Linked DNA regions of Homo sapiens. The protein of the gene in region 3 interacts with the protein of the main gene of each other region in a pairwise test. Each region holds a gene or a part of one and is shown on either strand. Other genes may lie near its edges.

Region 1 (7,537 bases), on a different chromosome or scaffold from region 3:
ATAGCAGCTATCTTGGCAAGTATTCTAGGAGTATAGGAAAATGAAAACAATAAACTCACACACCTTTATAACATACACAACCAGTTCTGTCTACCCAGCCAAGGTATATTCTTCTTATGTGGAATGTTGAACTATATCTGCCACCCCACTAACTGGAAGGCACCTGCACCTTAGTATTTCTAAGTCCCGACATTAACATTTCCCCAGGAAATCAGACCCTATCAGTACCCCTCAAAGCTCAAGTCTGTTAGTGCAGAGCCATACAACTAATACCCCTACTTATGGGGTTAGGAATGGCTACTGCTACAGGAACCGGAATAGTCAGTTTATCTACTTCATTATCCTACTACCACACACTCTCAAAGGATTTCTCAGACAGTTTGCAAGAGATAACGAAATCTATCCTTATTCTACAATCCCAAATAGACTCTTTGGCAGCAGCGACTCTCCAAAACGGCCGAGGCCTAGACCTCCTCACTGCTGAGAAAGGAGGACTGTGCACCTTCTTAGGGGAAGAGTGTTGTTTTCACACTAACCATTCAGGGATAGTATGATATGCCACCTGGCGTTTACAGGAAAAGGCTTCCAAAATCAGACAATGCCTTTCAAACTCTTATACCAACCTCTGGAGTTGGGCAACATGGCTTCTCCCCTTTCTAGGTCCCATGGCAGCCATCTTACTATTACTTGCCTTCGGGCCCTGTATTTTTAAACTCCTTGTTAAATTTGTTTCCTCTAGGATCGAGGCCATCAAGCTACAGATGGTCTTACCAATGGAACCCCAAATGAGCTCAACTAACAACTTCTACCGAGGACCCCTGGACCGACCCGCTGGTCCTTTCACTGGCCTAAAGAGTTCCCCTCTGGAGGATACTACAACTGCAGGGCCCCTTCTTTGCTCCTATCCAGCAGGAAGTAGCTAGAGCAGTCATCACCCAATTCCCAACAGCAGTTGGGGTGTCCTGTTTAGAGGGGGGATTGAGAGGTGAAGCCAGCTGGGCTTCTGGGTCAGATGGGGACTTGGAGAAATTTTCTGTCTAGCTAGAGGATTGTAAACACACCAATCAGTGCTCTGTGTCTAGCTAAAGGTTTGTAAACGCACCAATCAGTACTCTGTAAAAACACAGCAACCAGCGCTCTGTGTCTACCTAAAGGTTTGTAAATGCACCAATCAGCACTCTGTAAAAATGCACCAATCGGTGCTCTGTGTGTAGCTAAAGTTTTGTAAATGCACCAATTATCACTCTGTGAAATGGACCAATCAGCGCTCTGTAAAATGGACCAATCAGCAAGATGTGGGCGGGGCCAAATAAGTGAATACAAGCTGGCCACCAGAGCGGCAAGCTGCTCAGCTTCCCTTCCATGCTGTGGAAGCTTTGTTCTTTTGTTCTTCACAATAAATCTTGCTGCTGCTCACTCTTTGGGTCCACACTACCTTTAAGAACAGTAACACTCAACACGAGGGCCCGTGGCTTCATTCTTGAAGTCAGTGAGACCAAGAACCCACCAGAAGGAATCAATTCCGGACACACTATTTTCCAACAAGTTCTCCATCTGGCTTCTATTTTAAATTCATTAAAAGTAGGATAACATCATATGGAATGTAAAAAATTGCCAAAACTGAGGGCAATTTATGCAACTGCTGAGATTCACTCCAGATCCTCAGAGGAACTTGCTATGTAATGAAAAAAGAGATACACAATCCATCATCCCATCACAGGAGGCAAAATGAACTAACTTCTAGGCCAGAGGAGAGAGTAACAAGGGAGGGAAGGATTCATTACAACTGGAGGATCCTGGAAGGCTTCCTAAAAAGGGGGCATTTGAGCCTAAAAAGGGGCCATTTGAGCCTATCGGATGATTAGCTTTTGGCAAGGAAAGAAGGGAAATGGCACCCATGATTTCCTGACTCCCAGAAAGCCCCTGTCCCAGCTCTGAATGTCCCAACTGACACATTCTCCCAGGCCCTACTTATTCTCTGCACCTCCCTTGGTATACCCCACTTTTCACAATAATCACTCTTTCTACCTTGCATTATAGTTAATTGTGTGCATGCCTTATTTCTCTTGCTAAGCCATAAGGTCTTTGAGGAAATGGAATCCATTCACTTCATTTCTGCTTCCCCATCCACTGAGCCCAGAACTGGCCCATCACCAGCCTCTAATATATGCCTGGAATGTATGGATAAATGAGTGTGAACTGGGCCAGTTTTAAAAAGTGTTCAGATTCCTTCAGACATTTATTTAATAATATGAATTAAAACATCAACTCTGTGTGAGGCATTTGTGCTAAGTGTTGAGGATAAAAGTGGTACACATGGGCATGGGCCTACCCTCAAGAAGCCGATCACATAAAGTGGTGGCAAACACTAAATAAATGAATAAATATTTGTTGAGTTGCAATGGTGACTATTTTTAAGAAGGAAAAATAGAGAACAATGACAGATGAAATGTACCTAGATTCACAAGGTGCCAGGCACTGGGCACTACCCACGTGTTAACTCATTTGGTCCTTATCACAGTCCTAAGAGGTACAACCTTTTTACAGATGAGAAAACTGAGACACAGGAGAGTCAAAGAACTCCCCAAGACTAATAGCTAGTAACTAGTGTGGCTAGTATTATGGGAGAATTTCACAAAGGGACCTAATCTAGTCTGTCTACTTAGGGAAGGCTTTCCCAGGGAAGTGACATCAAGCTGAGGCCAGAAGGGTGAATAAAGGTGGGCCAGGCAAAGAGGCCACTGTGGGGAGTGTTTTGGGTGGGAAGGCCTGGAGGAGGCCAAGGGCTTAGCTAACTTGAAGAACTGAAAGGAAAGCAGTGAAGCTGGTGGTGAGGTAGGCAGAGGCCATGCTAAGAAATTTGTATTTTATGCTAAAAACAATGTACACTTTAAGTAGAAAAGATGATCCGACTGGAGTTTTGAAAAGCTCATCCTGGCAGCTGTAGAGGAGAATGGAGGGGGACCCTGTCTCACATATTTCCTATATGTGGTTAGGAGACAGGATGGTGAGTTGAATTGGGTATTGGCAGTGCAGGTGGAGGGGTGTCAGATTTGCTATATTTAGGAGAGAGAAGCAAGAGAATTTGAAAATTGGTTATGGCAGCTGTGAGAAATGGAGTGTTGAAGATGGTGCTCCAGGATTCCGACTTGGGTGCACAGGTGGCTGGTGGTACATTTAGTAAGATGGGGAAGATGGAGTTCAGGTTTAAGGGGAAGATGAAGACTGAAGTCCTGGCCGTTATGAGTTTGAAGCCCTATGAGCCATCTACGCGGAGAGAGCTGTATACGCTCTTGGATGTGTGTTTAGCGGCCAGGCTGGGGTGGAGAGGTACATGTGGGAGTTGAGGCTTGTATCTGTGGACCCACAGAGAAGGGAGCCAAGCCCTGCCCCAAGGAGCCCTCATGTTTGCAGGTCCTGCCTGCTTCAAATGTTACTGGTGATAACCTACATGTCACATTTGACAGGGCTTCCAAACTAAGCCATCTAAGAAAGGTCTTATGATTCATGGCTTAGATCCTGTCCCTGAGTAAAAAATCTTACTGTGAGTCCTTCAAATCCTTTTGTCAGTTCCTCAAACTGCTGATGTACTGATTAGTATGTAAAATACTGACATTGAAAAGAACACTGACTTGTTTCTGAATCATATAAACTTTGATTTTCTTGTGCACAAAACATTTTAGCCTGTATGTTGTCATCTGCAGCCAGTGACTGTAACCTGTGTACCATACCCTCCGATGAAAAAAATCCCACCTCTGATATAAGGGGTCCTCCTCCCTTTTCCTAAACTTTCTTCTAAAACCCTTCCAACGTGTAACAAATTTTGAAACATGCCCAACTTTGCTGGTAAGTCTTCTTGGGTGGATCCTCACATTTAGCTTCCAATAAATCAAATTATTTCTACTTCAACAGCCTTAATTTCCGTGGACACTGGTCAGAGTATTTCCTCCTGTCTTTCCATCATCCACTTCCTATGAGCTGTTCAGAAGCAGCTCTCTGCAGCCCCAACACCCACCTACCTGCAGGCCCCCCTCTCTCTGCTGGCTCCCGGAACAAGGCTCTGATTGGGATGGCAGAGGAAAGAGAAACGGGACCAGCAGCGCTACTCAGGCCTCGAAACTCCACACTCACTACCGTTTCCGCGCCACCCTCTCACGCGGAGCTCCTGGAAGGGTCCAGCGCTCCCTCTGCAAGGCACCGTCGGTCTACACCGCTCGATTGGCCTTTTATGGCACTGACTGTTCTTTGAAGCTTTTGCAGCTCCTTCTAACCCGATTTCACCGTGTTGGAAATGTTGGGGGTGGGGCGTAAAGGGGGCCATCCCATCCACAGAAAGAGTCGCTTGCAGAAATGATTTTAAAACTCCCGGGTGCCAGGACGTGAGGAGAATCCGGCAGGGAGGGACGGGAGAATTTCCAAAGGTGCCGCTCAGTGGGAAAATCCCTTTGTCAGAGAGTGGCCCGAGGGGCGCGGAATGCAGCCGCGCCCACCCCGCCCCGCGTCACCGCGTCTTCCGGAAGCTCCACGCCCCTGGGTACTTGGTTTCCCCGCATGGTTCCGGAAGAGCGCGGCGCAGCTGGCTGTGAGCGCAGGGCTATCCCGGCGGCCGCTTCGGCAGCCAGGGCGGCGCGGAGGGGCAGGGCCAGAGGGAAGCGCTTTGTTCCGCGCGTGGTTCCCGCGCCTGGGGGTGCGCGGGAGAGGCGCGAATCCGAGTGCCGCGCGCGGCCCGGGGACTTGCACGGGCGTGCGGGGTGGAACCGCAGGAAGCGGAGCTCTCGGGTTCCCGCCCCGCCCCGCCCCGCCGGCGGCGGAGGCAGCGAGCGCGAGAGCCCAGCGGAGTCGCTGGGAGCCTGAGGCACCGAGACACAAAGGCAGGCGGGATGCGGGAGCAGGCAAAGGGAAAGCGAAAGCCGCGCGCCCGGCCGGTGACTGGGTGAAGGCGCCGCGCAGCTTTCCCGACGCCGGCTGTACCCGGACCTCCTGGTCGAGCCTGGCGCGCCGCAGCCATGGCCATCGCTCAACTGGCCACGGAGTACGTGTTCTCGGATTTCTTGCTGAAGGAGCCCACGGAGCCCAAGTTCAAGGGGCTGCGACTGGAGCTGGCTGTGGACAAGATGGTCACGTGCATTGCGGTGGGGCTGCCCCTGCTGCTCATCTCGCTGGCCTTCGCGCAGGAGATCTCGATTGGTAAGCCTCGCCCAGGACGGAGGGGAGTGGCCGCCCCGGTCTGGCCCGGTGAGCTGCGATTTTACGGCTCACAGGCCCGAGTCTGGGTACGCCCAGCTGTGATGGTCGTGAGCGTCAGGAAGGGCAGTGGCCCCAGTTTTATGGTCCAAAGCGTTCTTTGCCCAGGTGTTTCATTGGTACCCTGGTCTACTCTGCTCGCATCCCTACTCCTCAGTTCTTTTGTTCCTCATGCCCCTCTGATCGGACTGTGGCTTATAGTTTATGTTCCACCCTTAGAACTGGCACCTTGCCACCAGATTTGCCAAGAATAGCTGTGTCCCCGTTTTTCACCCCTGTCTCCTACATATTTGTCCAGCCGCCTAAAATTTTACACCAGAGAAGTTCCTGAGTGGCTACATGGAGGATGTGAAGACCGGTGCTCCATGAGAAGTGTGTTCTTTCAGTGTCTTACATATAATTGGTATTTGCTGAGATCTTAGCTCTCTAGGGTTGTGAATGATAGGAAATATCTGCACTTGGCAGGCATTAGAGGGATCCTCAACTTGGACGGTCTTACAAATGTGAGATGAACAAGTCCCCTTCCTGTAAATTATCATTTGAGCTTCATAACAGTTGTGTGAGATTGGAAAGTCTGGTGGTTTGGGCAGGATCACGTGGCTACGTGCCTTACCTTCCTCATCAGCTGTTCTGACTCTCCACACAGGAGAGAGTGTTTATGAACCAACAGGAAGGTAGCGCAGGAGGGTTAAATACAGTTCTGTGGCAGGGGAAGAGAGAGGACCCAGTGCGGCTGGACTTTGGGAAAACTTTTGTCAGAGGGTGGGTGGGATTTGGACAAGAAGGAGTAAGACCTTTGTTAAGGTTTTGAGATGGCAGAGAATGTTATATGTTCCTGGAAAGAGAGACACAGTGACTCTCCTAGCCAAGGCAGGAGGATAAGTCAGAGTTCCTGGAGTCTGAGAGTGAATATGGGCCTGGGTCAGCCTGGAACAGAAGAGTGTAGGCTGATGGTTTCAGAACTGTGAAGTTATTGTTTGAGCAGAGGACAGACTGGTTGAATGATGGTGGCATTTAGGGTCTGGGAAGAAGGTGAGAGGATGGGGCCTGGAGGGCTGGGTGCCAGAGAGCAAGGCATCGGCTGAGGTCTTGTGCACAGAGGGTGTGAAGAGTGGAAGAAAATGGGTGGGTGATTGCTGTGCGATCAAGGAGTAAATAAGCAGCACTTGAGTACCTAGTATTTAATAGGCCATGAACGGCAGTACTGGTCAAACGTGCTGCGGAGGTTGTATGTCTGGGTGAGTGGAGTGTGGTGTTGGTGGTGATGGGAATTGTGAAGTTGAGGGAATAGTTGATTAGGAAAGAATGACTATGAGTGTGATTTTGCAATCTGCAGCACTAAGTTGTTCAGCTTGGCAGGAAGTTGCCAAATTCATTGTGGAAAATAGTTTTTAGTTTTCCTGCTCTTTGCGCAGGCATAGTCATCGGGATGTTCTTTAAGTTTCCATTTGACAGTGGATTGAGGCTTCCAGCTGAAAGCAAAACCACCAAGTAGCATGAGTCCTGGAGATAATCTCTCCCTTTGGTCAATTCCTCCTTCAGTACTGGCTGTGTGCTGAACTCGGTGCTGACCTCCAAGGACCCGGGAGTAAAAGAGGCATGATCCCTGTCTTGGAGGTGCAAGTCTTGGGTACCTGGTTGGGACAGAAAGGCAGGAGGAAGGAGTTAGTCACCCTCTGTGACCAATCTCCACCTCTAGCACATGTACTAGAGGGACTCCTAAGGCACCTGTACCTGTAATGCCTTAGATACGTCTAAATTGGTGGGCTGTCTGAGAGGTATTTTTGGGGTATTGGGAGTGGTTTTAACTAGCAAGAGTTTGAGCTCATGCTGTGTGCATAGCACTGTTGTGTGCTGAGGGAGATGGGAAAGGATTTTGAGACCTTGTTCTTGCCCTGCCCTCTCCCTGCCCTGTGGCAGTTTACTATGCAGTTGGGCACTAGAAGGTATCTGTTAGCAGGTAAGTCATTCAGCTGTGTGTAATTCAGCACCCAGCCAGGTGTTGAGCTATGAGCTCCAGGCTGGTGAAGGTTGGCAGGCACTTGGGTGAGGAGCTGTCAAGCAGACTCCCATGTTTTCTGAAGTGTTTTCAGGAGTTCCAGGGGAGGACAGACATGTGGGATGAAGCTAACAGGACCAGGGAAGACCTATTAGATTAGGTATACATTTAGATAAAACCAGAAGAAGGGCTTTTGAGAAGAGGGGAGAGGTACATAGATTAATACATGGAGTTGGTACAGTGGGAGGGATCATGTCATGCAGCATTTAATTTTGTGTAGTTAGTAGTATGCAC
Region 2 (7,022 bases), on a different chromosome or scaffold from region 3:
ATCATGCAGATGGAAAAGGTGGGAAGACTGGGACCTGGAGGGGTGATCCCTGCCCAAAGTCACCTAGTTGGAGCAGAGCCAGAACTAGTATCCCCAGGTGTCCCAATACCTGGGCCAGTCTTCTCTGTAAGCACATGGGACAAGAAGCCTTCCTGGATGTAGCTCTGGGTACCAGCCTGGCATTGCAGCTGCCATCTACTTGGTGGCGAGCACCCTGCCAGGTGCTTTACATGCATTGTGCATTTACTCCTCACAGAACCCAGGAGATGTGCAGGGTTAGCCTCACTTTACAGAGGAGACTCAGAGGTGTTAAAACCAGAGTTACGGTGTCACAGTTTCAAAGAAAAGAACTGATCCTCTCCACTAGCATTAGATGATGCTAAGGGGGTGTAAAAATACAAAAAAACTGGTCCCTGCCTGCCCCTCAAGAGTGTCATGAGATGCCTGCACACATGTGGGCTCATGTGTGTGTATTTACATACATGTGCAGACATACAGAACACAATTCTGGAGCCCTGGGTCTCCTTCATGAACAGATGGGGCTGGAGTGGGGAATATTCTCCATGATCAGAGTCATTGTACTTCACTGGATCAGGCCTCCTCAAGGAGAGGTTGGATGTAGGATCTCTACAGCTTCTGGGCAGCTTCTGAGCAGGGTCTCCTGGACCCCATGGCACATGCCTGGGAGACCCATGGGGAGAGGCTAGCTGGGGCCTGTAGCCAGGCCTAGTCGCAGAGGTGCAACCCTGGTGTTCCTTCAGAAAGGAAATGAGAGGGAAGCCACTGCCCCATTCCTGGATCTGCCTGGGCCGCTGGATTTGGGGAGGGGGTTGTTGAGGATGGAGTCCCAAAGTGCTTCCGACCAGGGCCAGTCTGCAGGGCACCTCCCTCCTGCTTCCTCCCTCTTGATGTGACTCTTGTTTCCAGGGGCTGATGGTGGCCATATTATACTGCTTTGTCAACAATGAGGTAAGCTCTGAGGAGGGACGGTGGGGACCCTGGTGGGTGGGTACCATCAGCCCGTCTGGAGTAGTACAATGGGGACTCCCATCAATCTTGCCAGCTGAAACCCCCTACTCACCTCACTGAGGCACTAGGGTTGAGAAGCCATCTTGTCCACAGATTTGGTTTTCTGTGCATGGTCTCTCTCACACATGAACACACACACACAAGTACATGTACAGGTATACCCTAATGGCATGTGACCCTAAGGAAGACCCAGACTCATGTTAAGGGGATCCTGAATGACCCTCTTTGCTTGGTGGTAGTGACTGTCACTTACAAAGTGATTCAACACACACATACCCAAGCCACATGCTTGGGGCTTTAATAATCACTATCTCATTTAATTATGACCCCCACATCCCTCAAAAAAAAACCCTGCTAAAATTCTTATTTCATATTCCCATTTTTTATATATACATGAAAACACTGAAGATCAGAAAGAGTCAGGAACCTGCCCTAGGTTTGGAAATAGTGGCACACATCGCTTCTTAGCCTTTTGGCTAAGGTGAAGTGTGGAAATAGTGGCATGGCAGAGCCAGGATTCAAATTAATTCTGCATTAAAGCAGAAAGTACCCCATTCTTCATACACACAGGCAAGAGCCCTGGCTCACTGTGGGGAAGGGGGTGGCTTTCTGGTGCTAGGATGGGAGAAGGGGGTTCTCGCTGGCCCCACACACTCTCCTGAAAATGTCTGCAGGACAGCAGGCCTCCCTCCCATCCCTGAGATGGTCAGCTCCTGGGAGGAGGGCATGGCTGTGTTCATGGGCACCTGGAAAAGGCCCCTTCCACCAAGGTACTCAGCTTTGGAATCCCAGAGCTCAGGGATGTTGGAGTCAGCACATTAATAGGCTTGTCTTTTTCTATGGGTGTGGGGGATGCAGAAAGGACAGTGGGTGGGGACCTGGGTGTTTCAAGGAGCTATGAGATGGCTCAAAGAAGCAATGTGATGTAGCAGAAAAGATGCAAGGATGCAGGCTTTGGCATCTTATTTGGTCTGATCTGGGCCCCATCACTTAATGAGCTGTGTGACTTTGCCTAAGTTACCTGCCCACTCTGAAACTTAGTTTGCTCATTTACAAAGTGGGGATAATCCTGTGAGGATTAAGAAAGTCTGAAAAAGGTGCGAAAGGGGAACAGAGAACAAGTCCTTCCTTCAAGGTGGGATGCTGAAGGCCCATCCTAGCTCCTCACAGGTGCTGCTTGGCATGGAGAAACACACACCATTATCTCCAGATGCTCAGTAAGCAATCACTATTAGATCAGTATTCAGTGATTCCCAGAGACAGGGGCCTAAGGAATTTCAGAGGATGCCGTGCAGAGAAAATGAGGCTGGGTGAAAGGGAAGGGAGGGGAATGTTCCCTTGTCCCTGAGGCCTCCCCCTGCTTCTGCTGAACTGGCTACCTGTGGGAAGTGTGGCCCTCAGATCTCTAAATGGGAGGGAAACCAAGGTCTCTTAAGGGTTTACTGCATATAAGGTGCTCAGAGTGTCTCATTACATCCAATGCTGTGCAGCAGATGGTATCCCCAATTCACAGCTAAGAACGTTAAGCCTCAGCAAAATGAAATGAGTAGCCTAATTCAATAGACAGAAGATGGTAGAGCTAGTGGGCTGTGGCGGGGGCAAGATCCCACTTAATGCCTCAGGGAAGCAGGTGCTGGGGAGGTGAAGGCAGCGCCAGGCAAAGAGTGGCCCATAAATGGGATTCTGGCTGCTCCTGGGACAGGTCTTAGAGGACCCAGCGGCTCCGTTTGGAGGGTAGGGCAGGGAACAGGCTCGTGACCCACAGGAGGCAGTCCTGGTCCTCCTCCACTGCCATATCCTCAAAATGAGTTTCTTTAAAACTGATGCAAACGAGGAAGTGCAAAAACCTAAGCTCTGTGGGTGGCCTCCCCTCCAGGAATGCTCTCAGCCAGCTGGGTGATGCGCTACCCAGCCCTGAGCTCTGCTGCTTTCCATTCCAGCCCAGTGGTGATGGGGGCAAGACAGGGTGGCATGTATCCTGTGTGGGGATGAGGAGCAGAGGCCTGTAGGGAGAGACTGAGGCTCCCTGCTGCCACCTTGTCATCTTGACCCCCCCACGTCCCCGTTTCTCACTTCTCTATCCTCTGACACTGTCACTGCAGCCCTACTAGCAGACACGTGTGCTTGGCTTCCCCCCCGCCATTGTGAACAGTCTCCCCTGACCCCTGGCTCAGCTGCCTCTCCAGATTCCATCCTTCCAAGCCTAGTCATCTCATCACCTCCCTCCTCATGCACCACCTATGGCTGGCCCACCTTTGTAAGGGGATAGTACTTCTTTGCCCTTGGAAAAAAACTTGATCCTGAATCACCAGGGTTGCACCTCTCTGACCAGGCCTGGCTACAGACCCCAGCTAGCATCTCCCCGTGGATCTTCCAGGCTAGTGCCACGGGGTCCAGGAGACCCTGCTCAGAGAACGGGAGAACCTGTCTCCCTTCAGAGCACCAGCCAGTTCCTTTAAACCCACCCTGAGACTCCTCATGCCCTGGCTGCTCCAGGCACAAGGACAGATACATCATTGTCACTGGGCCACAAAAGACACATGTGGCTCTGGGGCTAAGGCCTCTGTCCACAAGAGCTGTTCTGCAGACCCAGGGTTGCCATGGCAATGCCAGGTACTTGTGACCTGAGGAGAAAAGATGGCTTGAATATTGGTTCTGTGTGGCTGCCAAGGCCTGCACCAGCTGCTGGTGGGCGTGAGTGGGGACAGGGAGGGGGAGGCCTGAAGGTGGTTTTGCTGTAGCTTGTGCCTGAGAGCCACAGTGAGGTGACTCAGAGCCCTGAGTGCTTGTCCCAGCCCTGCCACTGCCGAGCTGTGTGACCTGGGGCAAGTCATTTTGCCTCCCTTGCCTCTGTCTCCCCAGCCGTAAATGAAGGTGAATGAGCTTCCCAATTCACCCCGAATCCTGAGGCTGGCATGGTGCCTGCTGGAGAGGGAGGTCAGGAGGGGTGTGCTGCACTGCAGAGGTCGAGGGCAGGGATGAGGATAAAAATCCGATGGTGGAGGAGGAAGTGTGGTGGCCTAAGTCCCAGCCCAGGTGCTCAGAATCTGTGGTGTTGTCTTTGTGGGTTCATTTTCATAGCTGAGGAACAGAAGGAACCTGATGTGAGATGCTCATGCATTTATGTGTTCATTCATTTGGTTCATTTAAAACACATGTACTGAGCACCTGCTGTATGCTGGGCACTGTGCTAGGTTCAGGGATGCTGAGATGAAGAAGATGTGGTCCCAGCCCTCGAGGTGCTCCCAGGTGAGAGGTAGGAGATGGACCAGGGACAAGCAGGACTGCAAGAGCCACGCAGGCAGGAGGCCAGGGGTTAGGAGCCGGGCATTGGAATCAGGCCAGATCTAGGTTCAAATCCTGGCTGAGCGACCTGAGGAAATAAACACTCTGCACCTCAGTTTCCTCATCTTTAAATGTGGAGCTACTTTGCAGGGTTGATGTGAAAGTCAGCTAAGATAATTAATGGAAAATTCTGTGCATACAGTAAGTGCCCAATAAATATGGTGATTTTCAAGGACAATCGTGATTACAGGGGTCACAGCAGAGGTTCAGGAAAAGTGCTGAAGGAGATGGGGGCAGAAGGAGACACTGTGTGTCAGCACCCTGAGAAGTCCCATAGGTGTCCCTGAAACCTCTCTTTGGTCTCTGGTTTCCCGGAGGTGTGCCTCAGTTTACCATCTTTCCCCCCCTCTCCAGCGGAAGGGCTATGAAACAAGCCTGGCCTCCTGGCAGCTGCACAAGTGGGGGCCACCACTGGACTCAGGGCCCCCATCCCAGCTGTCAGCATGCGCTCCCTTCACAAAGACTCAGCCGGGCAGGGAGCTGGCATACAACAGGGTGGCTGTAGGTGGTGTCTGCTCAGCCTCCTTCCCTCCCCCACTCAAGCTTGGGTTCATGACGCTGCATGGGACACTGGCGTCATCCTGGCAGGCAGCCTCTGGGCCATCTCAACTCTACTCAGTGCAGAAAATGTTCTTTTAAGGGATGGCATGCAGCCATACCAGGCGTCTTGCTGGGCATAGCTGGATGGACGACAAAGGAGGAGAGGAGGGTTGTTTGCACAGGGGCTGGTGGGGAGATTGGCCCCTTATCCACAGCCGCTGGCATCTGGCTGTCTTGGTGACTTGGCCTAAAGGGAAGGGCCCAGACCCCAGACACTCTGGTGTGGGAAGGGTGGGGACTTCAAAGAAGCTCTGGAAAGCAAATGTATGGGAACATCACCCAGAAGAGCAGTCCAGACCCCCCAGGACTAGCTTGGCAGGTTCCAGCTAGGCCTCTCCAGGGACCAGAATCACTGGCCACCACCGGGAGCCACAGCATTGCCACAAACCCTCAAGGGATGGGGGCTCCACAGTGTTACTTGGATTTGTCTCTTTCTGCCCCAACAATCTGGCCCCCAAGCATCAGCCCTCCTGAGAGGCTTTTCCTGATGGGGAGGCCAGAGCCCAGCACAACAGGGATCCTGGCTGACTGAGCTCCCCTGGGCTGCACCCCCATGGTCACTGCAGTGTCTCTCTAGATGGCATCAGTTGAGAAGCCCTCACTGGCTGCCCCTTCCTCCCTGCTGTTTCCCGTCTCAGCCACATTCCTTCCTTCCCTCCCTCCTCCCCTGTGAGGTGCTGGGGCCTGGAGAGAAGCCCTCAGGGAGTTTAGAAGGGTCTGCTGTAGACACCAGGAAGGCTGGGGGTTGCCGTCCCCCTTCTCAAGCATCCAAGCTGAAACTGGACTGTGCGCTGTAAAGACAGAGTCTCTCTTCTCTCTCCCATCTCCTGTCTCCCTGTGTTTCACCCTCCCTCTCATTCTCTTCCGTTAAATAATACTGTGATGGATTGTAAAAGGTACTTAGCTGAATCACAGAGTTTAGAGATGGAAAAGACCAATTAGGTCATCAAGCTGATCTCTCTCCTGAGGAGCTGCAGAAAATAGGAGACAACAATAAACAATTTTATTGGGATATTAATTTAGGAGCCCGAAGGCCTTGACTTGTGTCTCTTAATATAATGCAGTGGATTTCTTCCCTTCCCCACTAATGTAATAGTGGGGCCATTTTGTTAGCCATTGGTTTGCATGATGGCTTTCGTTTCCCTCCTTTTCCCATGGAAGGTCCAGCTGGAATTTCGGAAGAGCTGGGAGCGCTGGCGGCTTGAGCACTTGCACATCCAGAGGGACAGCAGCATGAAGCCCCTCAAGTGTCCCACCAGCAGCCTGAGCAGTGGAGCCACGGCGGGCAGCAGCATGTACACAGCCACTTGCCAGGCCTCCTGCAGCTGAGACTCCAGCGCCTGCCCTCCCTGGGGTCCTTGCTGCAGGCCGGGTGGCCAATCCAGGTGGGAGAGACACTCCCAGGGACAAGGGAAGGAAGGGACACACACACACACACACACACACACACACACACACACATACATCCTGCTTTCCCTCCCCAAACCCATCAGACAGGTAAATGGGCAGTGCCTCCTGGGACCATGGACACATTTTCTCCTAGGAGAAGCAGCCTCCTAATTTGATCACAGTGGCGAGAGGAGAGGAAAAACGATCGCTGTGAAAATGAGGAGGATTGCTTCTTGTGAAACCACAGGCCCTTGGGGTTCCCCCAGACAGAGCCGCAAATCAACCCCAGACTCAAACTCAAGGTCAACGGCTTATTAGTGAAACTGGGGCTTGCAAGAGGAGGTGGTTCTGAAAGTGGCTCTTCTAACCTCAGCCAAACACAGAGCGGGAGTGACGGGAGCCTCCTCTGCTTGCATCACTTGGGGTCACCACCCTCCCCTGTCTTCTCTCAAAGGGAAGCTGTTTGTGTGTCTGGGTTGCTTATTTCCCTCATCTTGCCCCCTCATCTCACTGCCCAGTTTCTTTTTGAGGGGCTTTGTTTGGGCCACTGCCAGCAGCTGTTTCTGGAAATGGCTGTAGGTGGTGTTGAGAAAGAATGAGCATTGAGACGGTGCTCGCTTCTCCTCCAGGTATTTGAGTTGTTTTGGTGCCTGCCTCTG
Region 3 (7,852 bases):
TAATTATTTCTTTAGCAAAACATTTGAATATACTAAGTGGGATGAATGAAGCCTCAACTTCAAGTCAGGTTTTGCTGCCAAGTGATTCTGAGCCAAACACTCAAAAAATTCTTTTCAGACCATCTTAGAGTTGGGAAGTTGTGGTTAAAAAATCGTTACCATACATACATCCCTATTTTACAGATGAAGTAACTGTGGTTCAGAGGTTAAGTTACCAAGGTTGTTCACCTAACTTAATAGCGTCAGAAATCGGACTTAATAACAGACTTAAGATATTAGTCTAAATAACAGGATTTAGATTGGACAGGAGCCAGATCTGCCTGATTACTAACAGCCTGCTCTTTCCATTACTCTCGGCTTTTGGGTGATGCCACACAACTTGCAGGCGGCATATGCCCGTAGATTTACTGATATGCACCTAAAAATTCAGTGTAAATCAAGTTTACTAAACCCTGAAATTCTATAGCCAAATGCTTCTGTGATAGAAATAATCAGCCCTCAGTATCTGCTAAGCGTAAATTTTTTCCCTAGTTTGCAGAGAGAAACTGGTTGGGTGCAGTGGCTCACACCTGTAATCCCAGCACTTTGAAGGCTGAGGTGGGAAAATCGCTTGAGCTCAGGAGTTCAAGACCAGCCTGGGCAATGCAGCGAGACATTGTGTCTACAAAAAAATTTAAAAATTAGCCATGCATTGGTGACACGTGCCTGGAGTCCCAGCTACTCGGGATCAGGAAGCCGAGGTGGGAGGATGGCTTCAGCCAAGGAAGTCAAAACTGGAGTGAGTCATGTTCAGGCCACAGCATTCTAGCCTGGACGATGGAGTGAGACCCCCCCCTCAAAAAAAAAAAAAAAAAGGCCGGGTGCAGTGGCTCACGCCTGTAATCCTAGCACTTTGGGAGACCAAGGCGAGCAGATCACTTGAGGTCAAGAGTTCAAAACCAGCCTCACCAACATGGTGAAACCCCGTCTCTACTAAAAATACCAAAAAATCAGCCGGGCGTAGTGGCAGGTGCCTGTAATCCCAGCTACTCAGCAGGCTGAGGCAGGAGAATTGCTTGAACCCAGGAGGCGGAGGCTGCATCTAGCTGAGGTCCCGCCACCACTGCACTCCAGCCTGGGTAACAGAGCAAGACTCCATCTCAAAAAAAAAAAAAAAAAAAAAGAGAAACTAAGATAATGTTAAGTGAAGGGAAATGTATTTTTCCAATTTATTTCCCCTAATTAAAGGTTCAGGTATTTTTTTAACGGCTCATGGGGATGTAAAAACTGCCCAGAAAGACTACAACTAACATAACAAATACTGCACCATATTATCAGAGCTAGAATAGCTCAAGTCTCGCTTTTAAAAAAACTCAAAATGTACAAAAACAGTATACTGTGAAGTCTTTCTCTACCCACTTACCATGACCACCCACTTTCCCTCCCAACAGGAAACCAATGCTACCATTTTCTCTAACAGTCTTTCTGTAGAAAGGAAAGAGACATAGAGGAATGAAGTCTGGACCCAAATGAGGTCTGACTGCACTCAGATCCCTTGCCCTGCTAGTATCTTCCTCTGCAGTGCTTTTCTCCACGTGAAAAACTGTACATTCGCTTTCTTAAATTGTCTCTCTTCCACTAAAAAGTAAGTTTTATAAAATCAAGGTCTTCACCTAGCTTGTTCACTGTTGTACCTCCAGCACCTAGAACACTATCTGATATACAACTGGTCGTCAAATATTTGTTAAATAAATGAATGCTATATCTAAATATAAAAAGTGACATCTGCCATATCAAATAATAGAAGTTATTCTGTAGCAAAATAATTCAAATAATGTAGCACCGGCAAAGAAAAGATGAAGAAAACTGAATGTTCTACAAATAGACTGAAGGATGTACCTGTATTAAAGATAGCACGTGAAAAATAACACCAAATGAGGGTGTAGTCTACTGGGGACAAAAACCAGAAATTTATTTTCTAGTGTGTTTACTGAAGCACATGGACACTGAAAGAAAGACTCCGATGTTCAGGCACCTATCAAGCCTCGGCCTGAGTCACATTTGCTACTGTCCTGTTGGCCCAAAAAAGTTACAGAAATCAGCCAGGCTGGTCCAGACCAGAAGAACTTGGCTGAATTTGTCTATTCATTCAATAATCGCGTACGAATAATTTTCTTGTTGGAATAAAAACACCTCCTATGCATTCATTAAACAAATAGTACAGGCATGAGGCAGATAAAAATCTAAGTAAAACCAAGTTCTGACCTTCCACCAACCACCTAGCTAATCCATAGACGTTAGATAACTCATTGGAACTTGGAAGCGTAGATAGGCGATTTTAAAACTCAGGAAGCACCGAGGATGAAGCGATGGAAGGCAGCAAGGCGGGGAGAGCTCCGGAAGAGGTGGTGAAACTGGAGGAGTCAGACTTCATTCCAGAAACGGCCTTCATGTGATGTTATCTGCATAGTTCATTCCGCTTACCAAAAAACTCACTCGTCCTCTCCCGCGTAACCCACCCACATTGCCTCAGATGTGTAACCCTCGGGTTAAAATACCGGTAAGCGCCGATGCTCACGGAGGGGACGAAACGGGGAGCGCAACCACCGGGAACCACGCAAAAGTCGCTCATGCCCAGGGCGGCTTGCGGGGGCAGGGACAGGTCAGCCAGGACGGCCGCGTCCACCCGGGCCCTACAGGGGGAAGGCTCGAGGAAAGGGGGACGGGAACACCCAGGCGTCGGCCCTGCTCGCCGCGCCCCTTGCCCCAGATCCGGGCCCGGCCGCTCAGGCCCTGAGGCCGGCCCAGCGAGCTCCTTCCCCGCCCCGGGCAAGCAGGGAGGCTCGGCCCACCTGGTCCATCTTGGGCATCACCTTCCGCTTGCCCCCGATCCGGAAGCGCACCAGGTTGTAGAACTCTTCGGGGTGGCCAAGGCATTTCACGAACTCCATCCTGGCGCAGGCGGCGGACTCCCGGGCGCGACTCTCACCTCTGCGGTCCCCAGGCGCTCACCGGCCGGCTGGACCTGTGGAGTAGGTGCTTCGAGGGGCTGGCCGGACAGGGGGCAGGCCTAGTACGGCGACGCCCCGCCCGCCGCTCCGCCCACTTCAACCGGCCTCGGCCGCCAGCGGGGCTAGCTGCGGCCTCGTGGGGTGGGCTGACGGGCGCTGATTGGCCAGGGCCGCTCACACTAGGAAGACCCCGGCCAATCAGTCGCGGAAGGAGACTGGCGTGATAACACTCTAGAAGCTCATTGGAGGCCGAGAAAGAGGCCGACGAGCGGGATTGGTGCCCTGATGGAGCCGGGCCTTTGTTTTCTTCCGCTTACCCCGGCTGGGAGCGCGAACGCTGTGGGGACTGGAGGTGAGGCGGTGGGGCTTAGGATGCGCAGGAGCCCAACGGTGGTCCGCAGTCGGGAGAGCAGTGCGGGGCTGCTTCCTCCCCACTTGGTCAATAAGTCGCCCACGTGTCCGGCCTCGGTGGCTCCTGCCAGCCGGGTGAGCTCTGCAGCCGCTCTCTGTAGAGCCTAAAACCGTGAAAAGGCCGGGCCAGCGCCAAGCTGGGCGTCTTTACTGTAACACACCCGAGCACAGCCCAGCTCGCCTGCCCGCCACCGCCATCCAGCCCCAGGGAGCCCCACACACTCCTGGAGCTTCAGCTGCCCCCTCTCTAGTGTTTACTTGAGATCCAGCTTAGTCCTAGAAAAAGGAGCTGAAGCCTTAGAGAGCCTGTAACAGGAATGTGGAAACTTCTCTCATCCTAGATCTCTCCAGCCCTAGAAACTACTGGCTACCCGTCCAGGCGTGGTGGCTCACGCCTGTAATCGCAACACTTTGGGAGGCCAAGGCGGGTGGATCACGAGGTCAAGAGATCGAGACCATCCTGGCCAACATGGTGAAACCCGTCTCTACTAAAAATACAAAAAAGCCGAGTGTGGTGGTGGGCGCCTGTAGTCCCAACTACTCCGGAGGCTGAGGCAGGAGAATCACTTGAACCCGGGAAGCGGAGTTTGCAGTGAGCCAAGATGACACCGCTGCACTCCAGCCAGGCCAACAGAGCAAGACTACGTCTCCAAAAAAAAAAAAAAACCTACTGGCTACCTAAGCCATCCTGCAGTCTGTTTTAACACAGCAACCAGTAATCCTTTTAAAACCTGTCAGGTCTAGCCGAGCGCGGTGGCTCATGCCTGTAATCCCAGCACTTTGGGAGGCCAAGGCGGGCGGATCACCTGAGGTCTGGAGTTCAAGACCAGCCTGGCCAACATGCTGAAACTGCGTCTCTACTAAAAATACAAAAATTAGCCAGGCATGGTGGCAGGCGCCTATAATCCCAGCTACCTGGGAGGCTGAGGCAGGAGAATCGCTTGAACACAGGAGGCAGAGGTTGCAGTGAGCTGAGATCGCGCTATTGCACTCCAGCCTGGGGGACAAGAGCGAGACTTCATCTCAAAAACAAACAGGAAACCTGTCAGGTACGTTCACTGCCCAAAGCTGTTCAGTGTCTCTCCAACAAAAGCCAAAGCACCTATAGGGATCCTGAGAGGCTGCAGCCTTCCACCCAGATTACCTCTCTGGCCTCCATCTCTTATGCTTTTGCTTTCTCTGGCCCTAGGACTTTTTGTCTAGCTGTTCACTATTCCTGCACTATCCCCCAGATACTGGCTTGACTAACTCCTGTGCCCCTCGAGTCTGCTCACACCTCATCTAGACCCACCTGTTTGCCCTCTCTCACATTTCCACCACTGCTAATCCCAGTGGGGGTCTACTTGCCTATATTTACCATATTCTAATACATCATTTACTTATGTATTAGATTACAGAGTGTTTCCCCTACTACTGTAAACTAAAAATCCTAAGTCCCTACCACTGGACAGCCCTCCCACTCCCCACCTCGGCCAAGGGAACCCCAGAAAAATCTTAAAAACTTAGTTTCCAGCCATGACGGTATAAAAAGTAAAGTAGAGGTTCCTCTTCAAAGACTTTCCTCCCCATTTAATTAGGAATAAATAGTAACTTCTCTTAGAAGCAAACTTTATTCAAAGACCTGTGCTAACATTCTTAAATATCTGCTAGCTATGATAAAGAAATCAATGTACTTCATGTTCTTAGCTCTCACAATTTAGCCTAAATATTTGCCCTGGCATGCTTATAGTGGTCCAAGAAAGCATTAGGTCATAGCCTGTTCCTCTTCCTTATTTGAAGGTGTTTCAACCTTTGTCACCATTCCACAAGTTACTTCCTCCTTCCTTTGTTCTCCTCTACCTTTGCCTCTTTTAAAAACTTCTAAGTTGCTAGCCAATCGGGACAAATACAGAACGTGAGGCACCGTTCCAGCCAATGGAAACTAGACACAAGCAGTGGGGTGGACGAGTCAGGTTATAAATGACCCTGTCTCCTTTGTTTGGTATACTCCCATGGCAAAACTGCTGGCGAGTGTACCCTTTCTGCAGGAAGTAAAAATGGCCTGCTTAGTAAATTAATGTTCAAGCGCCTTTTTTTTTTTTTTTTTTTTTTTTTTTTTTTTGAGACAGAATTTCACTCTTGTTGCCAGGCTGGAGTGCAGTGGCACAGTCTCGGTTCACTGCCACCTCTGCCTTCTGGGTTCAAGTGCTTCTCCTGCCTCAGCCTCCCGAGTAGCTGGGATTACAGGCGCCCAACCACCACGCCTGGGTAATTTTTCGATTTTTAGTAGAGACAGGGTTTCACCATGTTGGCCAGACTGGTCTTGAACTCCTGACCTCATGATCCACCCTCCTCGGCCTCCCAAAGTGCTAGGATTACAGGCAAGCCACTGCGCCCAGCCTTCGAGTGCTATTTCTTCTTCATTTTTTTTTTTTTTTTAAATGGAGTCTCACTCTGTCGTGAGGCTGGAGTGCAGTGGCGCGATCTTGGTTCACTGCAACCTCTGGCTCCCAGGTTCAAGTGAGTCTCCTGCCTTAGCCTCCCGAGTAGCTGGAACTACAGGCATGTACCACCACGGCCAGCTAATTTTTTTATTTTTAGTTGAGACAGGGTTTCACCATGTTGGTTAGGATGGTCTCAATCTCTTGACCTCGTGATCCGCCCGCCTCAGCCTCCCCAGGTACTGGGATTACAGGCGTGAGCCACGGCTCCCAGCCTACAAGTGCTATTTCTTTCCAGCACCAGGGAAAAAGCATTTCAAATAACGGGACAGGAGATCAGATAGCCCTCATTGTACCCCCTTCCTTTTGGAGTTCATACACAACTGGCTGGCATTAACATTAAAACAGAGATCATAAGACTAACGGAACAGACTCTGTGGCAATAAGATACCCAATTATAAACAGGACCTAAGGCCATGCAGGCAATGGTGAAGTCAGGCACCCCTACACTTGAAGAATCAACTAAGCTCTAACTGCCACAGGGCTCTTCTTTTTCTCCAGCAGCTAAACGCTGGCCTTGAGATAAGCAATAGTAAAACACCTGCAGCTCCACCAGACAGTGACTAATTGAACCCCTGTTCCACCAGCCATAACTACAGCTTTGACTGGTCAAGAGATTGATCTCAGTAACTTTCTCCTGATAAGACCGCCGACCGTGGACTGGTCTGGCCAGTTTACAGAAACTGTACACTCAAGGCGCCTTCCTGTCCTAAAAAGACCTTTTGACCTATAGGGTGTAATTGTAATGCATTCACATGTTGAGTCTCTATCCCAAAGTGAATATGGGTCATATATTACATACATGTTTGTTCAATGTGTCAGGTCCGCCATCATAAATATTCGTAGCTCCTCTTGTAATCTGTTAAATATGTACGTTTAGCCAACCCAGTCAGCATAAAGCTCCTACCTCAAACGCCTTTTCCTTCAAAGTGCCCGTCTGTGGTCTAAGCTGGAAGCATGCTGTAACCCTTTAGAAGAAATAAAGGCTCTTCTCCCTTTCTAAATTGATAAATCATATTTTTTAAGTCAACACTAGAAATCTAAGCTCAGTGACGACACACCTTTGTTTTGCTCACTAATGTCCCCTCAACCATCTGGAATAGTGCCCAGCACATACTGGCTCAATGAATATTTATTGGGTGCTCAATGAGTATTTATTGAATTGAGCTGCGTATAGGACACGATGGTGCCTAAACAATGCAAAGTTAGTTAACGTGCCCATTCTTTAAATCTCTCTTCCATTAAATCTGCTTCTCCTGTGGATAGCGTTAACAGCCTCTCAGTTTTGTAATCACAAAATCCAGGTGTCATTGATAACGCCCTTTCTCTCCTTATATCCACCCCTTCAAAATCATTCATCAAGTCCTGTGGAGTCCAAGAAAACAAATACCTTTCATTTTAATCTCTCCTCTCTGCTCCATCTTGGTTTAAGCCACATCTTCTTTCCCAAACCATGTTGAAGTTGACTTCCCCTGTCCTTTCCCATATGGCAGGTAGAGTTATTCGTCTAAAACACACACTGGGCTGGGTGCAGTGGCTCACACCTGTAATCCCAGCACTTGGGAAGACCAATGCAGGCGGATCACTTGAGGTCAGGACTTTGAGACCAGCCTGGCTAACATGGTGAAACCCCGTCTCTACTAAAAATACCAAAATTAGCTGAGCGTGGTTGTGGGTGCCTGTAATCCCAGTTACTCGGGAGGCTGAGGCTGGAGAATCGCTTGAACCCACGAGCCGAGATCACCACACCACACTGCAGCCTGGGCAACAAAGTGAGACTCCGTCTCAAAAAAATAAAAAATAAAAACACACACTTGATTATAATCCTTCCATTTTAAATTCCTCCAATGAAATGTCTTCGAATCAATGGATTGATTTAAAGGAAATCAAGCCTTCTGGCATAGAATAAAAACGTCCTTGCCATTTGGCATCTACATCCTTTGTTGGGATTTCAGCCTCCTGTCCACCCAT
Region 4 (7,022 bases), on a different chromosome or scaffold from region 3:
TCTTACTGAATGGTGTTTTCTCCTTGAATAGAAACGTGTTCAGTTGATCATCAAATACTTAAAGGACCTTGAAAGCTTGTCTGGCTCTAATTAAAGCACAGCTACTTGGTGATCTTAACAGAAACCTGTCCTCTCTCGGAGAAGTGCAACCTCTTCCACTGCGCTGACAGCTTTGTGGGAAGAGGGAGAACTACAGGAAACAATGAAGAAGTCAGAAGGTGCCTGTTTACCCAAACGTGTCTGCAGCCATGTTCCTGCATACCCCGGTTAGAAGAACCGCTGAAGCACTATGCTATCAGCTTAAAATCTAGGTGACTACAAAACCCTGGAAAGTTTGGCACATAAACTACATTAGGCAAGATCAAGGATGACATTTGTTCTTTGATTAATCATTATCACTGCCATTCAATGTGACCTGCCAAACATACACAACTTACATCTTTACAGCAATCCTAAATCCTAAGATTTAGTGATGTTAGTATGCTTAAAGAACACAAGCCAGTTACTAGCTAGTTCCAAAATCTCAGCCAGAAATATGTGTTAACACTGGATTTGCCACATCTAGAAGCACAATCACTCCAGTTATGGTGTCTAAACGAATGTCTAAAGTTAGGTGAATGGAATGTAATCAGACTATACTAAACTTGGTTCCAAAAGTTATAGAAGTTGTAAAGTTAGTCTAAACTAAAGCACTTAAGTGAAAAAGTGTAACTGCCATATCAGAAAGAAGAGCTCCCACCATGAAAATGTCACTGAATGTATTTTTTATTTTTGAAGGTATTTTTAAAATCTGGGCACACCATATCTATCTGTAGGACCCTGGGTCCAAAGGTCCTACATAACTGATATGAACCATAATTCTCCATATTAACAAAGGCTCGGAAATTGAAACCAAGATCACCTAACTCGCTCACTTTGGCCAATATAGTACGAATTTCAGCTTCTTTACAAGAGAAGAGTCCTGAGATGTTAATATGCAGCAATTCTGCTGATGTGCATTTTAACTTTATGCACCAAGGAAGAAAGGCTAAGGAATTCACAAAAGTAAAATCACCCCCTGAAAAACAGATGCTGGTGATTGGAGAAAAAAGAGCAGTAGAATTAAGGTGTTTTATAAACCAGAGAGTGTTTTGTTTCTGATAGGTAAAGGGATTTCTTCATATGTTATTTTAATAAAAGGGAATTTCATAGGTAAAAACCAATATTCAAAATTATAAAACAAATAGAACTGTTTGTGCACAATCACTGCATCAAAAATTTGCAAGAGACTCAACAGAAATTCTTTAGTTGGCAAATGTGGTTTGAAGGGGTAATAAAATCTTTTTATGGCTAAACCAAGAGTCTTGTTTCCTGTTGGCCCAAAAACAGATGTTTCATTTCCCAGATAAGTAGGTTCTCCACTGTAAAGAAATATTCTTGTATAGTTGGTTTCTATGTTCTTGAACTCTGCTCCAAATTCAGCCAACTTGTTAAAGGTCCTTAACACAAATTTGGAACAGTCGTAGGAATCAAACCATGTCTCTGCCCCCTTTTCTGGGCTGGCTTTTACATTCCATGTCTCATAATAAATTCCTGTTTCATTGTCCTGTTTCACCCACTTTGCCATTTGGTTGAACATGTTTCCTAGTTTAAAAAAACAAAACAAAGTCACCTAGTGAACAAAGCTAATCATGTTAATTTTTTTTTTTTTTTTTTTTAAGACAGGTCTCCCTCTGTTGCCGAGGCTAGAGTGCGGTGGTAACATCACAGCTCACTGCAGCCTTGACCTCCTGGGCTTAAGTGATCCTCCCACCTCGGCCTCCTGAGTAGCTGGGACTACAGGCGCTGGCCACCAAACCCAACTAATTTTTTAATTTTTCTTTTTTTTAATTTGAGACCAGCCTGGGCAACACGGGGTCTTGCTGTATTGCCCAGGCTGGTCTCAAATTCCCAACCTCAAGTGATCCTCCTGCTTCAGCATTCTAAAGCACTGGGATTATAGGTTTGAGCTACCATGGCTGGCCTAATCATATTAATTTTAAGTAAAATGTTCTAACTTGATTAAGACTGGATGCCTGAGTAAACAATGGTTTTGAATTTCCACACCTGCATTTCACAACAGGAATCCAAGCTCAGCCAATTTTATTCCATTCTTCAAGGCACAAGATATTTCTGAATTATAAACATTAGATATAATAGGTGTATAAGGAGAAGTCATCTTACATACTAATTCTATAATCATTTAAGCTATAGTCAAAGCGAAATTATACAAATGCAGAAGCTCTCTTTCTCTACCCAACTCACCAAATCTTGGATTCAGAGGCAAAAGAGAAAAGGAAAGCACAAAAAGAATTGCGAAAGAGGAAAAGCAGAATGGGCAAAGACAGTGTAAGGAAAATGGAGGTGTGGGAAATGTGGAGCTTCACTGTTGCAAAGCATGCTACACATAAAGTATGAATGGCTGCCTGAGGAGCCACTGCTCTAGAAGGCTGGCTATTACTGTTATGAGAACAAGCACCATACCCCATCCACCTTGTGTGTTTGGTACGTTTCTTTCTTCCCTGTACTTGGAGTTGCTGGGATGCTGCTGATGACCTCTCCACCTGCCACGTTAAGTCCTTCCAACAAATCAACTAAACTGGAAATGTTTTAGGCCGAGTTCATACTCCAGGATGGCTAACCCTCTCTTCTACCATCTTGTACTAGACCAGAAGAATCTTTCCAAATATTCAGAAAACACTACTCTGCATGGTTACAACTCTCATCTTGGGCATTTATAATGCCTAATAGAACTGGGCCCCAAACACTGCATCCTGTCACTGTGTGCAAACCTCTTTGGTTACTCCAACTTGAGTCCATAAAATAAATACTTCATGTTCTGTAAAATGAATAGAGTGACTGCCTTTATCAATTTTATGGAATTAAAATTGTAGAACAGAATAAAGCCTGTTGTATTAGAACTGGGGATACTGTTCTTAGCATTCTTCAACTTTCAAATGCCACCACTATCCTTATGAGACAAGAATGCTTCAAAACACTATTTTGTCAATCACAGGATTATTCACAAGGCAAATAAATGACTTAAAAGATTTAAGTACTGGCATATTTTGAACTATTTTACAAAAAATAGTGATCACTTATTCATATGATCATTGACTTTATGTCAGAAGGAAGGATTTTCAGATAACGATGTAGGTGGAAATGGGGAAAGGTGTGAACTGGCCTGGAATGAAAGAAAGAACCGCTAATGATGGACTTTTGTATTGTTGGTATGGTTTAAGGCACATTGATTAGAAAGTAGCAGGAAATATTAGAAAACAACATGGTGCATTCGGCTAACAGATCCTTGTTACATTTAAAAGACCTCAGTTTTATTCCTGATTCTGCTACATCCAGCTCTTTGACCTTGAGAGGCAAGTAAGTCATGTTACCTGGCTGAGCCTCAATTCCTTATTTGCAGAGAATGAGTATCTTATCCTCTCCACTGAACCGTGAGTTAACATACCTCCAAATCATTTGTAAAGAGCTATACAAATAGGAAGCATGATTACTTCCTCAAGTCCTGGGGTTCACTGAATAATTATTGTCACAACAGTGCTTTCATTTCAGATGTTTCTACTGTTCTGGGGAACAGCAATTTATAATGTAATGCTTCATAAATCATATGGACAAGCTCCTTACTTCTCAAATGCTATGGTATATTGTCTCCATTTTGCACATGAGGCAACGGGCCAATAAGATATAAAATGTGACCCAAGTCACATAAGGAGTTACCAATGAAAGGATTGCTGAACTCTTTTCATTACTAACCAACAATGCAGCACTTGCAACACAATTCCAACTTTCAGCAACTTTCCAATACATCCAAAAGAAGAAAAAAATCTCAAAGATAAAATATTTAAACTGCTCAAGAGGGTCTCAAATATAAGATCATATACATTTTGGGAGGCAATGTATCAAAGTAGTTAGGAGAATGGGCAATGGGGCGTAACTGCCAGGGTTGGAGTCCCACTTACTAAGCTGTGTAACTTTAACCTCTCTGTGCCTCAGTTTCTCCATCTGTAAAATAGGCAAAATAATAGTTACTACCTCCAGAAGTTGTGATGATGAATGATGTGATGTATGTACAGTACTCAGAACAGTGCCAGAACCAGTCTATATTAGTAGCTATTATTTTTCAACATAAAAATATCATCACTAAAATTTTTTTCAGATATAGTTAACATATCCTTTAATCAGGCATTTTATGGATTTCTCTTACTATTTCGTTTAGAAAGACCAATTTAATTGTACAAAATGTTTTATCATTTTATTCATTTTTATGATGGGAAAAGAGCATTTTTAGGGAAACATTCAAAGATCAGAGATAAGCTACTCATCACCAACAGGTGAAGTTCTGCATGAGTAATAGTTTGGGTCAGAGTTTAGTGGTTCCACCAAAAGCAAATGCAACAAAAACAAATATAAATAGATGAGACTTAATTAAACTAAAAAGCTTCTGCACAGCCAAAGGAACAATCAGCAGAGTAAATAGACAACCCACAGAGTGGGAGAAAATCTTTGCAATCTATACATCTGACAAAGGACTAATATCCAGAATCTACAAGGAACTCAAATCAGCAAGAAAAAAACAATCCCATCAAAAAGTGGGTTAACGGCCGGGAGTGGTGGCTCACACCTTTAATCCCAGCACTTTGGGAGGCCAAGGTGGGCAGATGACCTGAGGTCAGGAGTTTGAGACCAGCTGGCCAACATGGCGAAACCCCATCTCTACTAAAAATACAAAAATTAGCTTGGCATGGTGGCGGGCGCCTGTAATCCCAGCTACTTGGGACGCTAAGGCTGGAGAATCGCTTGAACCCAAGAGGTGGAGGTTGCAGCAAGCTGAGATTGTGTCATTGCACTCCAGCCTGAGCGACAAGAATAAAACTCCACCTCAAACAAACAAACAACAACAACAAAAAGGCGGGGTGGGGGTGGCTAAGGACACAAATAGACAATTCTCAGAAGATATACAAATGGCCAAGAAACATGAAAATGCTCAGGGAAATGCAATGATCAGGGAAATGCAAATCAAAACCACAATGTAATACCGCCTCACTCCTGCAAGAATGGCCATAATCAAAAAATAAAAAAAAATAGATATTGGCGGGATGTGGGGGAAAGGGAACACTTCTTCTCTGCTGCTAGGAATGTAAATTAGTACAACCACTATGGAAAACAGTGTGGAGATTCCTTAAAGAACTAAAAGTAGAACTGCCATTTGATCCAGCAATCCCAGTACTGGGTATCTACCCAAAGGAAGAGAACTCATTATACGCAAAAAATACTTTCCCATGCATGTTTATAGCAGCACAATTTGCAACTGCAAAAATATGGAACCAGCTCAAATGCCCATCAATCAATGAGTGGATAAAGAAAATGTGGTGTATATATACCAAGGAATAATACTACTCAGCCATAAAAAGGAATGAAATAATGGCATTTGCAGCAACCTGGAATAATGGTCTCCAATTCCATCCAAGTGAAGTAACTCTTCAGGAATAGAAAACCAAACATTGTGTATTCTCACTTGTAAGTGGGAGCTAAGCTATGAGGATGCAAAGGCATAAGAATGATTAACTTTGGGAAGTCGGGGAAAAGGGTCGGAGAGGGGTGAGGGATAAAAGACTATACATTGGGTACAGTGTACACTGCTCGGGTGATGGGTGCGCAAAAATCTCAGAAATCACCACTAAAGAACTTATTCATGTAACTTAACATAACCAGTTCCCCACAAACCTATTCAAATAAAATAAATAAAAAATACAAATAAGAGATGAAAAAAATTCCCAAAGTTTAATGGTTCCAAAAGTACATTTTACAAATGACCTCTAAGTAAAACATTACTGAAATGTTTCAATGGAAGTATAACAATTTCTTTCATTTGGTTTTTGATGCAATGATCAAATATTGCTATATTTTCACAACTTACCTGATATAGTTGCTACTTGAACTAATGTCCCATTTTCCTTCCAGTGAACATCATCAATTCCCTCAAAAAAGCAGGCAGCGCCTTGATTACACCAGAAAGGGGCATCCATTTCAGGTCGGAGATGGGGAAATGTACAGTTGCCAAGTTGGAAAAGTTCATACCATTCCATTGTGTAGTTCTTGCCAGTTAATGTACTTCTGAATCCAATGGCATCATGCATAATTTTCTGTGTAAAGACAGTACATGTATAAAAGCAACTGTGACACAACCATGGGTCCAGGTAACCTGATAGGAGAAAATGTGGCACATCACAAATGCATATCAAGTAGAACAACTGTTCAGCTGTTCTTCCATGCTGCTACTGTCATATCCACTCTGTGGCCCCAAACTCCAGGCCCTCATCCACCCCAGCTTTGGCCACTACACCCCTATTTGGCTCATCTCAAATAGGAGGCCTGCATGTTATGTGGACAAGCTGATAATTTCCTTAGAGCTTAGAATAAGTGTGAGGAGCCCCCATGCCAGTCTCTGGAAGCAGCTCTACAGACCTCACATGGTGATGGGTTAACCTGGAAAAGTGACTACAACAGAGTATGGAAATCAAGAGGTGTTACCTGCCTGCCCTGCCACTTCTGGGCCTCTTCTCACCTTCCAGGAGCTAGGTACAGGAGCTGGTTTCAGATTCATAATATTACAATGGATAATGGTGATTACATTTGTTGTTGTCAAGATTACAAAATCTGATAGTAACTATTTTTGACTACTCATTTTAAATGTACTAAGACAAACACCAACATGATCTAAAGTCAGCCATCTAAATAGTGATTACTCCTTAAAAATCAACTTAATAACCAAATCATTGAATTAACCAAAGTTATAAGACCAAGATGCATCCTTACCAAGTGTCCCAGGAGGTCTCCATATTTAAATTCCCATACTGGGGCTTGTAATCGAAAAACTTCAATGTCATCATCACCCTCCATAACTGGGATAGGTGAGCCAGTTGGACAGAAAGTATACTTAGCTTGACAATAAGGATCAGGTTTTGGACGGAAGTCAAAGCGCCTAA

The links.
Region 1: the proteins of FDFT1 (region 3) and PANX1 interact in binary tests that used the Homo sapiens proteins (3 or more experiments, as listed by UniProt).
Region 2: the proteins of FDFT1 (region 3) and GLP1R interact in a protein complementation assay, tested with the Homo sapiens proteins (one study listed by BioGRID).
Region 4: the proteins of FDFT1 (region 3) and CLN5 interact in binary tests that used the Homo sapiens proteins (3 or more experiments, as listed by UniProt).

What each region holds. Positions count from the first base shown.
Region 1 is NC_000011.10:94,124,307-94,131,843, forward strand, and holds the start of PANX1 (pannexin-1), read left to right. Parts: upstream 1-4,534; 5' UTR 4,535-5,006; coding exon 5,007-5,187; intron 5,188-7,537. UniProt on the Homo sapiens protein: Ion channel involved in a variety of physiological functions such as blood pressure regulation, apoptotic cell clearance and oogenesis.
Region 2 is NC_000006.12:39,079,771-39,086,792, forward strand, and holds part of GLP1R (glucagon-like peptide 1 receptor precursor), read left to right. Parts: intron 1-927; coding exon 928-969; intron 970-6,135; coding exon 6,136-6,303; 3' UTR 6,304-7,022.
Region 3 is NC_000008.11:11,797,911-11,805,762, reverse strand, and holds the start of FDFT1 (squalene synthase), read right to left. Parts: upstream 3,023-7,852; 5' UTR 2,931-3,022; coding exon 2,832-2,930; intron 2,686-2,831; exon of another isoform or gene 2,245-2,685; intron 1-2,244. UniProt on the Homo sapiens protein: Catalyzes the condensation of 2 farnesyl pyrophosphate (FPP) moieties to form squalene. Proceeds in two distinct steps.
Region 4 is NC_000013.11:76,995,059-77,002,080, reverse strand, and holds part of CLN5 (bis(monoacylglycero)phosphate synthase CLN5), read right to left. Parts: intron 7,019-7,022; coding exon 6,853-7,018; intron 6,180-6,852; coding exon 5,954-6,179; intron 4,039-5,953; coding exon of another isoform or gene 4,010-4,038; exon of another isoform or gene 3,996-4,009; intron 1,624-3,995; coding exon 1,112-1,623; 3' UTR 1-1,111. UniProt on the Homo sapiens protein: Exhibits palmitoyl protein thioesterase (S-depalmitoylation) activity in vitro and most likely plays a role in protein S-depalmitoylation.